Linked DNA regions of Homo sapiens. The protein of the gene in region 2 purifies or fractionates together with the protein of the main gene of each other region. This does not show direct contact. Each region holds a gene or a part of one and is shown on either strand. Other genes may lie near its edges.

Region 1 (7,000 bases), on a different chromosome or scaffold from region 2:
GGACCAAGCCCCCATTTCTTCAGTGTGGCCGGAAGTTCCCTCCAGGGCATCCTGATCCAAAGGTGGAAGCTGGCAGTAGATGCCCAAGGGCTCCCTCGCAGGGCTTGTCCCTTGGGCATCCCTAGAGGGACAGGCCCAGGTCAGACCCCATTTTCCAGGTCCAGTGGCAGGTATGGAAAGAGCCTAGGCAGTGACTTGTGCACTGGCTACAGTTCCAGGCCTTCTCGAAGGCTGGGCAGTGTTTCCTCATTCCAGGAAGCCAGCGGAGCCTCTGCGAGCTGGCTGGGCACAGCAGCCCCTAGGTCAGCAGGCTCATGCTTAGGGTGGTGGCCACCCAGGAAGGTTCTGGATGAGGGTCTTTGCCTTAGGGACCTGGCCCCCACTGTCCACCATCAAGTTGAAAGTGACACTACCTCCCTAGTCTTGTGATCAGCTCCACGCACTTCGCCCTGGAAGTCCCATGCCAGGCGTGAACTGACCTAAGTCCCTCCAGTCACAAAGGCACTTCCCAAATTTGGTTGTGTGGCTGCTGCTATTTTGTTTATTTGTTTGATAGCAGCCACTGAAAACTTGGAGGAAGGTGAAGCCAGCCTCATTATCAAGTTTGAATGAAAGCAGCCTCAGAGCAAATTCTGCCAGACGTACACATTTTTGGACAAATATTTACCTGAAACAAGTCCAGCGGAGTCCATACAGCCTGTCCTGTGGGCTCGGTGAAGCCCAGCAATCTGCTCTCTGCTGCCCTGACCACACCTCCCTGGAGCTCTCATGGATTCTTTTACCTGCTCTTTCCTGAGTCAAGAGTGTCTCTGAATTCATTTAGCCAACCCACACATCTTGAATACCTCTGTCTTTACCAATGAGAACGCATTTCTAATATTTACTTTGCTAATCATCAAATGCCCAATGCTGACCAGAGATAAAGACGCTGAAGTGCCTGTCCCTGCTGCCTCTGGAGCAGATGCTTTCTGCTTCGAGGCAGTGGCTGCGAGTGGGGTAGGGGTGGGCGTTGCTGATTTGAATACATCTAGGTTGTAGCTGGCATAATGAAACCACACAGAACAGCCCACCATCTCTGCAAAGGAGTTTAGGATCCAAATGCACCACCCTACCAAGGAAGCAGAAGGTGAAGGCCGTGCCCTCAGGGAGCGTGCAGTCTGGCGAGGTTGCTGATGCAGTAGAGTCCTGAGCTCACAGTAAAATGCTGTTCTGCACGCTTCAGTTAACTTTCGCAGTGCAGGAGCCATTTCCCAATTCGATGGACCAAGGAGAGTGACAGCCAAGCACAGTCAAGAGCAGGAGGTGACAGTCGTATTAGAGGTGTAACTAAAAATTCACGTAAACTTGATCTCATTTGGTCCTTCCAAGACTGTGAGGTACGATCCATTACAATCCTGTTTCATGGATGTGGAACCTAGGCCTAGGAGGGTTGAATCTGTTGATCAAGGTCATAGAACTAGTAAGTGGCAGGCTGGCTGTCAACCAACCCACGTCCCCCGACACCCGGCTCTGCCCTGTTCTAACTTGCTCCATCCCTTTCTCCTGCTCCTGATTCCTTTCCTCTGCGAGGTGTGAACCCGGGAGGCTTCAGCAGCCAAGTACCTCCAGCGCAAGCTGACACGGCAGGGAAGCAAAGTCACACATCCCATTTTCTGCCCTGCCTGCGGGCACTCAGGCCATATGTCCCTGCCAAACCCCAGTGCAGGCACAGCGCTGCACCTGCAGCCACTTACAGGCTGCACTGGGCAGTCCAAGCCAGGCTGAGGCCACACTGGGACCCCACTGCGTCCAAACACCAGGAAACCCTAAGGACCCTTCTAGCCCCTGAGAGGTCAGGACCCCCAGCCCGAACGTGGAGGTGCCCAGTTGGCATAAGCACAGGGAACACCGTGAAAGGCCTTACGAAGCCTTTTAGAAACTCTGGGCTTTGGAACTTGTGCTGCAGAGTAAAATAGAAATCAGATCATCTGGACAAATCCCCCCTTGAGCTGGCGTTTGTTGATTCTGCCTATTTTCAACTTGGAGCCAATTATCCTGTGGATTCAAATAGTCCTAGATCTGCCTTGTTTGGAGGCTGAGGCCAATGCCAGCTGGTTAGGAGCCACTCTGGTGGGCTGAAGCCACAGGGGAGGGCACACATCCCCCGTGTCCTTAGCTGTGCCCTGGTGTCTGAGTTTCAGCCAGCTGGGAAGTGTTTCCTGTTTGTATAGCCAGGGTACCGGCCTGCGCTGCATTCTGCTTTCATCTCTGCAGATTGCTTTAAAGGCCACTCTGTGTCTACTTTCTGCCCTCTAATCCCCACTGCCACCATGGCCTTTGGCCAGAAAAGCCCTGGGTCTCATGTGGCGGTTGGCGGGGCGGCAGCAGGCTGCCTTAGCCCGTCTGGGCATCCCTGCCTTGTCGAGCGTTTCCCGGGAGGAAAACCACATCCTTCTCTTTTTTTCCCATGGCTACTTTCCCCCTCCCCATCTCCTCCAAACTGTCAGATTCTCAGGCACCTCTTCCTGCCTGCCAGGGCCGCCCTTTCCCAGAGCCCCGCAGCCTTGGAAGGGACACACCAGCGACTGGGCGTCCCAAGAGCCCCTCTCCCTGCAGTGGCCCTGGGCTTTCTCCCCGCCTTGCAGGGAGCCCATAAATTAGATCTGTGGCTCCCAGGAGCCAGGGCCTCTTTCTGACCAACAGGGAAGCAGTATTTCTTGGCAATTTTCTCAGCAGCCTCTTTCACCGGGCTAAATGAAAAGGAAGGTTTCCGCGCTCCCAGCCTTCCTGCAGGAGGACTGTGCGTCAGCTTGAAGCAGCCTGAGCCCATCAATTATTCAGCATGGACCCAGCACTTTGAATTTGCAAAGGTCTTAAGTATTTTTATAGATTCTTTTCTCATAATGTCCCAGCGAGACAAGCAAGGTTTCCCTGTTTCCTAGACAATAGATGCAGGGTTCAACTCGGAGTCAGAAGACTTGGGTGCAAGCGCAGCCAGCGCCACTCATGGAGCTGTGGGACCTGGGGCAGTTCTTTCGATGGCTCTGGTGTGCAGTTCTCTGTGGTATAATTCTTAGGAAGGCCTCCCTAGCCCAGGTCATTGTGTGTGTGGGGAAAAAAATTTGCAAATGCAGTGTGATTAAAAAATGCATGTGGTTGCTCTTGTTGCACCAGGTGTGGAAACGGAAGCTTCTATCCTGAGCTGAAGTGCAACCATTAGCATAGGACACTGCAAACCGGGCTCTGCTGGGAGACAGTCCCCAGGGAAACGTGGGCGAGTCGGCGCCTCTACTCCCTGGCCCCGTGGGGGTGGCTCCATGACATGGTGGTCCCACTACCTGCTGCTGTGGGCTGACTCTGCATGTGTCAGGGTGGAAGAGGGCACGGAGGTCATCACACCCAAACCAATGGCTTAGGGTGGGATGGGACCCCAGTAGCTGACTCCCAGGTCGGGAACTCTTTTCTCTTCCACACCAGGCTGGCTCTGTCCAAAATGTTTCTCCCGCTCCCATCGGCAATGCTGGGACCCCAGGCAGGAGGCACCGAGGGCTGCCTAAAGCCGGAGTGTTAGGGCAATCTACGGGTGCAGCCCACTAGGGCGCCTGCCCCTCCCAGAGCCCTGTAGTGGGTTTCATGCCATGTACCCATCCTCTCACACTGGTGGCCCCAGCATCACAGCTGTCCCTGGGACTGGCCCAGGAGCCACCTCCATCAACCAAAACAAGCAGACAAATGAAATGAGTCCCTGGCCTGGTGCGGTGGCTCACGCCTGTAATCGCAGCACTTTGGGAGGCCGAGGCAGGCAGATCACCTGATGTCAGGAGTTCAAGACCAGCCTGGCCAATATGGTGAAACCCCGTCTCTACTAAAAATACAAAAATTAGCCAGGTGTGGTGGTGGGTGTGGTGGTGGGTGCCTGTAATCCCAGCTACTCAGGAGGCTGAGGCAGGAGAATCACTTGAACCTTGGGAAGCAGAGTTTGCAGTAAGCCGAGGTCGTGCCGCTGCATTCCAGCCTGGGTGAGAAGAGCAAAACTCTGTCTCAAAAAAAGAAAAGAAATGAAATGAATCCCTGTTCCAGTTGAATTCCAAAGAGTCGTGTGACTTGTCCAGCGTCACAGGTTGTTAATGGCAGAACTTCCCTTAGGCTGAGGTCCCCTCACTGCCCAGCCCTGCCCAAGGACTAAGACCCCAGCCCCGGAAAGAGGCCCTCCTGCCACAGCAGCTGTACTCACAGCACCCACGTGCTTGGCACTGCAGACCGAGGCGCTCGGTCTCTTCTTCCTCTTCTGCCCAGAACAATTTTACAGAAAAACAAAGCATTGCCTTGGGAATATTTCAGTGTTATTTGCCCCTGAGGTTTCTAGGAACACTGGACTTGTAAGTACTATAAAGCTCACATGCCTGTTACTTCTGTGCAAATGGAGCCACCTGAAAGATGGTCACAATGGTGGAGTTGGGGAGACTTGAGCTGGAATGGTGGTTCCTTCCCTGACCTGCTTGTGAACTGTGGTTTCCTTGCCTGCAGTAGAGATAATACGAGACACTAGATAATACCAGTCATGCCTCAGGGTCATTTCAAGGGCTAAACTAGATATTGCACAGTGCCTGGCACAATAAAAAAGGTCTCCTCTTTTCCTCCTCCTTCTAACAATTTTCATTTATTTCTGTATAAATGAGAAATAGAGAAATGGGTGATAGAGAGAAAAGTAGTCATTCATGCGTTTATTTTATTATCAGAAAGTATGTGTTGAAGTTGTACTGGTTATACCCAGCAGGTGGCCATGAGCAGCAGGGGGAAGAACTGGGGGCGAATTCGCCCTCCTGAAGCCCAGGCTAGTGTGGGCAGTGCCGTTCCAGCCTCTCTTGATGGCAAGAGAATCTTCTGGTGCATTTCACTGGGAAGTTCAGCTCTTTAGGTTCTGCTGGGCCTAAGGGCTCAGAAGATGTCAGGATGCTCTCTCTTTCTCTCTCTTTCTGTTTTTTTTTTCCCTTAGTTCGCCTTACCTCAGGCTTATTCCCTTTTTACTACAGACGGGCTTTCTCCAGACTCTGGAAACTCCAAGCTTATATCCTCCCAGCTGAGCTGCTCCTGATGAAAATACCCTATTTCTCCAAGTGTCTGTGTTTAAATCCCATGAAAATATTCTGATTGGTCTTTTGTGGCCCATTGCACATCCCCAGGCCCAGTCACTATTGCCAGAGTAAGGGCTAAAATGAACGTCTCTTTCTAGGTGTCGTGAGTGTTCCTGGGGCAGGGGTGATGGGCAGGTGCTGTGACTCATGGTCCCTTCAGAACCACCTGAAATTAGACAGGAGTGATGCCCACAGAAGGGATGCTGGAAAAAGATAGATCTGTTCACCCGAGAGGCACATCAGAAATGTGACTCAGTAAAACCATCCAGCAGGTGCACTGCTGCACTGAGAGTGGGCAGGAAAGTGCTCAGATCCAAGTGTGAAGGGAGGAAGCCATCAGCTCCATTCGGAAGAGCACAAAAGACTGTCGAGTGAGGTGCTGTTTGATCCAGGCTTGAAGACTGAGTCAAATTCAAACATAAGGCTATCGCGGAAGGATGAGACATAAAGTTGAGACCAGCATCCCAAACCACCCCATCTCAACTCAAGAAAGATGACTCAGCCACCAGAAGCATTCTGACTTTGAAAGTCTTACCCATGAAGCTGTGGGAGGTCTGCTGGGGAGATGTCATCTGGAGCTGTGAACGACTCTGGCTGGACTTTGTTCGCTGACTTCACCGCATCAGCGTCATCAGCACACACTGAACATCTGCTGTTTACAGGGCCCTGTGCTCGGGACACAAAAGGTGCAGCAGTGTCCTGCCCCTCAAGGAGCTGATGTCTGGTCAGGAAGACAGGACCACAGACTCCCACAGTTCAAGGTCATGCGGGCCAGTGTGCAGTCAGCATGAGGAAAGCAAGTGACTGGAGAATTCAGAGAAAGGTGGCCTGGAAGGTGGGGAGTGTGAGAGGGCTTCAGGGAGGAGGCGAGCCCTCGGATGAGCTTTCAGGCAGTGCAGGGCCTAGCTCGCCAGTGAGGGCCAAAGACAAGGACAAAGGGCCAGATGGACTGCCCAGAAAGTCCTCTTCATTCATTCATGTACCCACTCTCTTACTCAGCAAGTTTCCTGAGCACCCGCTGTGTGCCGGGCACTGCTCTGAGTGCCGGGGTCACAGTCAGGAACAGAATTCGGAAGCCCCTGCCTGCTAGGAGCTGGCATCCTCAAGGGTGGGACACACAGACACCAACAAACATCACGGAGTAAGTGATGAGCTCCGGAAGCACCAGGAAGGCGAGCGCTGGGCTCCATCCTGTGGCCCAGGCTGGGGTTTGCGTGGAGATGAGGTTCAAGCAGAACCAGGCATGAAGCAGCCAGCATATGACATTGTGGCACAGCATCAATGTCCTTCAGAAGAGACTGCCGAGTTCTCACAAGGGTGTGCAGCAGGGAGGGGAAACCCCGGCAGCAAACAGGAGGCTTCCAGGAAGGGGGAAGGCTAGTGCTGTCCTGGCTGGACATGTGCCAGAGGGAATGCTTACCCGGCAGGGTAGACCACAGGGGTGCTTGGAGAAAACCCCAGGAGCGCTGTCCTGTGGAGCCCTGATCCCACCCACACCCCTAACCCAGCCCCGCCCACTTCCCCAACCCAGCCCCGCCCATTTCCCCAACCCAGCCCCGCCCACTTCCCCAACCCAGCCCCACCCACTTCCTTAACCCAGCCCCGCCCATACCCCTAACCCAGCCCCGCCCACTTCCCTAACCCAGCCCCACCTACATCCCTAACCCAGCCCCGCCCACTTCCCTAACCCAGCCCCGCTCATACCCCTAATCCAGCCCCACCCACTTCCCGAACCCAATCCCCCCATTTCCCTAACCCAGGGCCCAACTCACTTCCCTAACTCAGCCCTGCCCACTTCCCTAACCCAGCCCCACCCACGTCCCTAACCCAGCCCCACTCACTTCCCTTAGCCAGCCGCACTCCCCTAATCCAGCACCACCCACGTC
Region 2 (7,926 bases):
TCACCTGAATGTCAGATCAGCCTGTGGACTGAGCTCCATTCATAGGATAAGCAGTAGCTGAGCTCTGAAGGATGAAAGCCCATCTCTGACGTCTGTTGCCCACTCCTCCCCATCCCCTGCCTCCTCCATTCATTCATTCAACACAGATTTACCGTGTCCTGTGACGCAGGCACTGTGTTAGACAACAGGAACCAGAAGATGGCCCCAACAGAGTCCTGGCCTCAAGAAGTTCACTTTCCTTGATAGGAAGGAGGGCATGGTGGCCCGTGCCTGTAGGACCAGCTATATAGGAGGCAGAGGCAGGAGGATCGCTTGAGCCCAGGAGTTAGGGGCTGCAGTGAGCTATGACCATACCACTGCACTATAAACTGGGCAACAGAGCAAGACTGTCTCAAACCTATATATATATATATATATGTGTGTGTGTGTGTGTGTGTGTGTGTGTCTGTGGTGTGTGTATATATATACACACACGCATATATATATATATATATATATATATATAACCTTGATAGGGAGGAGACAGACATATGTGACAACCTATGTCCAGAACCACCTAGCCTGGAACTGGGACTTTTTTTTTCTTTTTTTTTTTTTGTAGACAGAGTCTCACTTTGTAGCCCAGTCTGGAGTGCAGTGGCACAATCTCAGCTCACTGCAAATTCCAACTCCCAGGTTCAAGTGATTCTCGTGCCTCTGCCTCCCAAGAAGCTGGGATTACAGGGGCTTGCCACCACACTAGGCTAATTTTTGTATTTTTTTTTTAGTAGAGACGCAGTTTCACCATGTTGGCCAGGCTGGTCTCAATCTCCTGACCTTAAGTGATCTGCCCACCTTGGCCTCCTAAATTGCTGGGATTACCGACATGAGTCACTGCACCCGGTTGGAACTGTCACTTTCTACTTGGAACTGAGCTCCCTTTCCAACACCAAAATGTGTCTTTCCCACAGCTCATTCCTTTGGAATTTGAGTTCGCAAATTCTTTGCGCAAAACATCTAACTTCTATTTCTGTAACTGAACTTGATTTGAATTCCCATTGTGCTGGGTGTCAGAATCTTAATCATGTCAGGTAATTAAGCAACCTCTTCTCCCTTCTTACCATAGGCTAGGGGAGAGAGTCGAGGCCCCAGATGGGACTGGAGTATTCTCAGTCCGAATAGTGAACACAGAGTCATCCTCAATCCTCTCTACTCTCGTGGTCTTGAGGGGCCACTGCTACCTCCTCCTGGTCCTGACCTTGAGGCTTCTCAGCACTGGCTTTCTCTGAATTCCTTCTGTGCACAAGTAAGTCATTCAGCTTCTTCCTGAACAATAAGGATTTCTCATCCAGATACCCCTGTTCCGTGGTTACTCTACTGTTACCAAACCATGCTTGACCCAGAGGGGAACTCTGCAAAGCTCACCACCTCCCCCAGCTTCCCCAGGGAGAAAGACACACACACCCTCTCCTCTGAGACCTCCAAACCTATGTGGGTATCTGTCGTCACTACCACTCCTGCCTGGTACCCGTGCACACCCAAGGACTGTGTTTGGAGAGGCAGATGCATTGAGGTCTAAGCGTTCTTGCATCCTTAACTTTGAAACCATAAAAGCATGTTCTTTTCTTTGATCTCTGGATGTTTCATTTTGTTTTTTGTCATCTCCCTCTTTCGATGCCTCCTGCAATGAATTGTATGTGGGAGGAAGGGAGAGGCAAACATGTACAAGGACACAGAGGTATCCTGGGAGAAACTGTGACTCATACTATAAAATATTAATCTCACTCACTTATATAGCACCTTGTACTTTATATTAATTAATTAATTAATTTATTTATTTATTTATTTATTTACTGAGGCAGAGTCTCACTCTGTCACCCAGGCTGGAGTGCAGTGGCACAATCTCAGCTCACTGCAACCTCCGCCTCCCGGGTTCAAGCAATTCTCCTGCCTCGGTCTCCCGAGTAGCTGGGACTATAGGCACCTGCCACCACGCATGGCTATTTATTTTTATTTTTTAGTAGAGACAGTGTTTCACCATGTTGGCCCTCAAACTCCTGACCTCAAGTGATCTGCCATCCTCGGCCTCCCAAAGTGCTGGGATTACAGGCATGAGCCACCACACCCAGCCAAAACATGTATTTCTCATGGAATAACTGCATGCACTAGAGCAAGCTAATTGGGAAAGTCAACAGTTTATGAAATAATGATGAGTTGCTGGCACCTGATGCACATTCATAGTCCCATTTAACTCTTCAAGTGAAACTCTCACTTGGCAGGAATTTACTATTAGCCATTTTCCAAATAAGAGATACAGACGAGAGAGTCTCTATCTCTTCTTTGGTGCAAGGAGATTGGTGCAGTCGGTGAATGGCAAAAGTGGATATGTACCCAGATCTGTCTCCAGTCCAAATTCCAACTCATCACTTCCCTTATCTGCCAGGCTGGATAAGGGAAGTGGTTCTGCTTCCAAACTTAATATGTGACAGATAAGGCAATCTAAACCAAAGTCTTCTTGAGTTTGGTCAAACCATATGCTGCCAAGGCTTGAATCCACATAACTGTAACAAGCCATCCCAACTATGCCACAACCCACACAACTCAAAGGCAAGGGAATCCCAGGCGACAAGGTCCAGGAACAGCCACTCTGGGGAGTCTGCCACCTCTGATATTGCTCCCGTGGCACACATGGTGCCCCATCTGCCTCCAGACCTGCGCTGAAGGAATGGGGGGAAGGGGCAAGCTTTGTAGGTGTGGGTGATCCAGTGGTCACTTGAGGTCTCTCAAACAAGGACTCTGTAGATGATGTTAATGGGCCAAACGGAATGCACATCTGCCCCTAAGTGTGTTTCTTTTCTTTCTTTTCTTCTTTCTTTCTTTTTTTTTTTTTTTTTTTTTTGTTGAGACAGGGTCTTGCTCTGTTGCCCAGGCTGGAGTGTAGTGGTGCAATCTTGGCTCACTGCAACCTCCACCTACTGGGTTCAAGTAATTCTTCTGCCTCAAGCCTCCCAAGTAGCTGGAACCACAGGCATGTGCCACCACTCCTGGCTAGTTTTTTTATTTTAGTAGAGACGGGGCTGGTCTGGAACTCTGGGCCTCAAGTGATCCACCCACCTTGGCCTCCCAAAGTGCTGGGATTACAGCTATGAGCCACCGTGGCCAGCCTTGTTTATTTCTAAATGAGGCTTCCTTTGTGTCTCTACATTTCCTTCTACAAAAAAAACTGCCATGGCACAGGGGCTTATGCCTACAATCCCAGCACTTGGAGAGCCCAAGGCCAGTGGATCACTTGAGCCCAGGAGTTCGAGACCAGCCTGGGTTAACATAGTGAGACCCCAGCTCTACGAAAAATTTAAAAATTAGCCAGCCATGGTGGCATGCACCTGTGGTCCCAGCTATTCGGGAGGCTGAGGTGGGAGGATCACTTGAGCCCCGGAGTTCCAGGCTGCAGTGAGGTCTGATCTGGCCACTGCACTCCAGCCTGGGCAACAGAGCAAAGTGCTGTCTTAGAATAAAATACTTTTTAAATAAACTAAAAACAAAACAATGGGCCTGGTGTGGGTGGCTCACATCTGTAATCCCAGCACTTTCGGAGGGCAGGTGAGGCAGAATAGGGAATGAGGGTAACCAAGGGTTAAGGCATAAACAAAAGAACAGCAGGTGCAGCCAGTTCTAGGCAAGATTAGGCAGCATAGAGGCCACGTGTTCATTCCCTCAATCAGAGGCTGATTGACGGACGACAGGGGGTTGGCCGGGGGGGAGGGTGACAGCTTCTGATTGACGGGGGGGCGGGTGCGCGTCTCCACTTCAGCCTCTGATTGGTCACAGGCCAATCCTTCAGAGGGTGTAACCAATCGGAGACCTCTAACGGGCACCTAGGGGCGTTACCTAATTCTTCCAGCTTAATGAAAATCCTAATGGGGGCTCTTGAGCTGTTTGCTCTGTCTTGCTCCTGCTCTGTGAGTTGTACTTTCGCTTCAATAAATCTGTCTATTCCTTACTCCGGTTTTTTCTTTTGTTTCTTTTCGTTGCTTTGTTCTTTTGTTACTTTGTGCATTGCATTTTGTTCAGTTCTGTGTTCAACAAGCCAAGAACCTGGGCAATCCACGGTCAAGACCTTCCATCCAGTAGCAGAGGCAGGAGGATCCCTTGATGCCAAGAGTTAGAGAGCAGCCGGGGCAACAAAGTGAGACCCTGTCTCTACTATCTATCTATCTATTTTTTAATTATCTGGGCATGGTAGTGCATGCCTGTGGTCTCAGCTACTCCTCAGGCTGAGGTGGGAAGATCCCTTGAGCCCAGGAGTTGAGGCTGCAGTGAGCTATGATGGCACCACTGCACTCCAACCTGGGTGACAAAGCGAGATCTTGTCTCTAAATTAAATTTAAAACAATACCACCAAAACAACAACAGGCTGGGCGGTGGTGTCTCACGCCTGTAATCGGAGCACTTTGGGAGGCCGAAGTGGGAGACCATTTGAGGCCAGGAGTTCGAGAGCAGCCTGGGCAACACAGACCCCACCTCTACAAAAAAATAAAACTGGCCTTGGTGGCGCGCGCCTGTAATCCTAGCTACTTGGGAGGCTGAGGCAGGGGGATTGCTTGAGTGTCGGACGTTGAGGCTGCAGTGAGCTGAGATCGCGCCACTACACTCCAGCCTGGATGACAAACTGAGACCCTATCAGAAAAAACAACAACAACAAAAAAACAGTGCCCGCTCGGTTTTTCCTGAAACGCGCAGCCCTCGCCTGTAGCCAGGAGAAAACTCCGCGAGCCAGCAAAACACAAACTCGGCCAGGAAACAGACAACAAGGCCACCCGGGGGTGCCTGAAGAGGACGCTGCGAGGCGGATTCTTTTTCCGGGCCTGCGGCGAGTGCTTCCGGGGCGGTGGCGACGGAGGCGGAAGTGCGGTGTTTTAGCCGGTGGCTGCTGTCTCTGGGCGGGCCGTGGGAGGCTCCCGAGGTGGGGGCCGGGGCGGGATGGCTGCAGCGGCGGCCGGGGCCGGGAGCGGGCCCTGGGCGGCCCAGGAGAAGCAGTTCCCGCCGGCGCTGCTGAGTTTCTTCATCTACAACCCGCGCTTCGGGCCGCGCGAAGGACAGGTATGCGGAGGGGGCGGCGCGCGGGCGGGCGGCGCCGGTGTTCCCCGGGAAGGTGGCCCTGTGGTTCTGCCCACCTCGAGGGGCACTGACCTAGCCTGCATTGTGCCAGGTGCGAGTCCGGGCAGGGGGCTGCGGCGGGGACCTGACAGCAGGCAGGGACCGCTTCAGGTCCTAGGTCGATGGAATAAAGCCCCGTCGGGTCTATATCACTCCACACCCCAGGTTGAGGCTCTTTGCGCTTTGCTTTGCGTCAGTTCTGGGAAATTAAAATTGAACTTGGCTTTGTTAAGTGGGTAGTCCCCAACTAGAAGCGTGGAACCAGGGTGGCAGACGCTAGCCTTCAAATGATGCAAGCCTGGAGGTCCCTGTAATAGTTTTCGCCCAAATGAGGAAATAAATTAATTTCGGGAGGGGTGTGTGTGTGTGTGTGTGTGTGGTTTTTCTGAGGTGGGGACGGCGACTTTCTCAAAGGATGTCCGGAGCTGTGTTTTGTTTCCAGCAAGTCAGACTTCTGTTAAAGACTGTCCAGGCTGGGCGCTGTGACTCACGCCTGTAATCCCAGCACTTTAGGAGGCCGAGATGGGAGGATTGCTTGAGGCCAGGGGTTCCAGACCAGCCTGGGCAACATAGCAAGACCCCCAACTCTACAAAAAAAAAAAAAAAATTGAAAAGTGAGCCGGGCGTGGTGGCACGCACCTGTATTTCCAGTTACTCAGGAGGCTGAGGCCAGAGGATCGCTTGAGCCCAAGTGATTGAGGCTGCAGGTGAGCTGTAATAGCGCCACTGCACTACAGCCTGGGCAGCACAGACCCCATCTCCAGAAAAAGAAAAAAAAAACAACTTGTCAGTTCAAATGGCTGGGAACTGACTGGATTTAATTTTCAGGGAGCTATGTGTCTGCAGATGGGCACACCTTTACTTCTTACAAGCATTGGTGTATTACAAATTAGCACTAGGAAAGAAACCTGGAGACTTGAGTTTTCATAAAAATTACCTGGTGCTACTTCAGATGTGACTTCTTGACTATCGAAATTGCCTTTCTGACTGGTGGGCAGTATTTGCACAATGATGAGATCATTCCTGTTCTTCTTCTTATTTTAAATAATAGAGACGTCTCACTGTGTTGCCCATGCTGGTCTTGAACTCCTGAGCTCAAGTGATCCTCCCGCCTCAGCCTCTGAAAATACTAGGATTACAATTCCTGTTTTTCTAAAACCGGTTTTTGTTTTATTTTGTCATTAGCATGTGTGACACAAGAGGTCGACATTGAACTTAGCGTTTTCAATAGCTAAGATGAAATGTTTCTATTCATGTTGTGCTTCTGTTTCCTCATGTTTCAGGAGGAAAATAAGATTTTATTTTATCATCCAAATGAGGTAGAAAAGAATGAGAAGATTAGAAATGTCGGATTGTGTGAAGCTATTGTACAGTTTACAAGGTAATACCTCTAAGTGTGCCTTTAGCGTTCAGTGAATTCTTAAAACTGCTGCTGGAGAATTGTCCCAAACATATTTTTTTAACCTTTGTAGGACATTTAGCCCATCAAAACCTGCAAAATCTTTACATACACAGAAGAACAGACAGTTCTTCAATGAACCAGAAGAAAATTTCTGGATGGTCATGGTATTTACACACACAGTGTATCTTTCTGAAATTGTATGGTGAAGTTATGGGTGATCTTTACTGTTCAGAATTTAGGAAAGTTCTCTGGCTGTTGCATCCAAGTAAAATTAAAATAAAATTGGTTGCAATTTTAAAATCAAGTTCTTCCTATTTGCTTTATTCATTCTTGGGGCTGTTTTAAGAAGTTGTGTTTCTGGTGCTGTAGCATGTTCAAAGTTTTTAAATTAAGGCAAAATAAACATGGTCTAATGAATTCATTGTATAATTTCAGTTTATCAAACTTTGTAGGTTGTTCGGAATCCTATAATTGAAAAACAGAGTAAAGATGGAAAACCAGTTATTGAATATCAAGAGGAGGAGTTGTTGGTAATGTGTCATTGTTTGTTTATTTATTTATTTTTTTAAATGTATTGCTGAGTATGTTGAATGCCTTACTTGGTCGGATTTAAACTAGGAGGCTTTTGCAGAAGTTTCTCGGGGTATATAGCAAAGGTTTATGTTTATCATTTACATGAGCACAATCTTTTTAAAATGTATATGCACCCAATCTCACTAATACCTTCTACTCTTCATCTATATTGAAAGCCCTCCTAAAGTAAGGCTTACTGATTGACAAATTAGAGTTTAAACACTTCTGGCTGGGAACAGTGGCTCACACCTGTAATCCTAGTACTTTGGGAGGTCAAGGCAGGCAGATTACTTGAGGTCAGGGGTTCGAGACCAGCCTGGCCAATATGGCGGAACCCTGTCTCTACTAAAACTACAAAAACTGGCCAGGGATGGTGGCGCACACCTGTCATCCCGGCTTCTCAGGAGGCTGAGGCAGGAGAATCGCTTGAACCGGGGACGCAAATGTTGCAGTGAGCCAGGATTGTACCACTGCGCTCCAGCCTGGACAACAGAGCGAGACTCCATCTCAAAAAAAAAAAAAAAAAAAAAGAACGCAAACACTTTTTTTCAGCACGCAACTATTGTGGGATGAAGTTTATAAACATTATACTGTTTGGCCAAGAGTCAGTGTACCTTTGCCATCTATCCAGTAGACATTGTTTTTCCCTTGAACTGAGCTGTGTGCTGTGTTTTCGCGTCTGCAGGACAAGGTTTATAGCTCGGTGCTGCGGCAGTGCTACAGCATGTACAAGGTAAGCGTGGCGTTCTTTCTCAACTCAGAGTCCAACCACTTACCCCTATCTCTAGGCTCCAGGGTTGTTTAAAGAGAAGTCT

The links. Proteins that work in one complex are often made in the same cells at the same time.
Region 1: the proteins of CCZ1B (region 2) and FAM167A purify together in Homo sapiens (co-immunoprecipitation; 2 studies listed by IntAct). This does not show direct contact.

Annotation. Positions count from the first base shown.
Region 1 is NC_000008.11:11,456,754-11,463,753, reverse strand, and holds part of FAM167A (protein FAM167A), read left to right. Parts: intron 1-7,000.
Region 2 is NC_000007.14:6,823,231-6,831,156, reverse strand, and holds the start of CCZ1B (vacuolar fusion protein CCZ1 homolog B), read left to right. Parts: upstream 1-4,881; 5' UTR 4,882-4,959; coding exon 4,960-5,079; intron 5,080-6,419; coding exon 6,420-6,517; intron 6,518-6,608; coding exon 6,609-6,702; intron 6,703-6,990; coding exon 6,991-7,068; intron 7,069-7,796; coding exon 7,797-7,844; intron 7,845-7,926.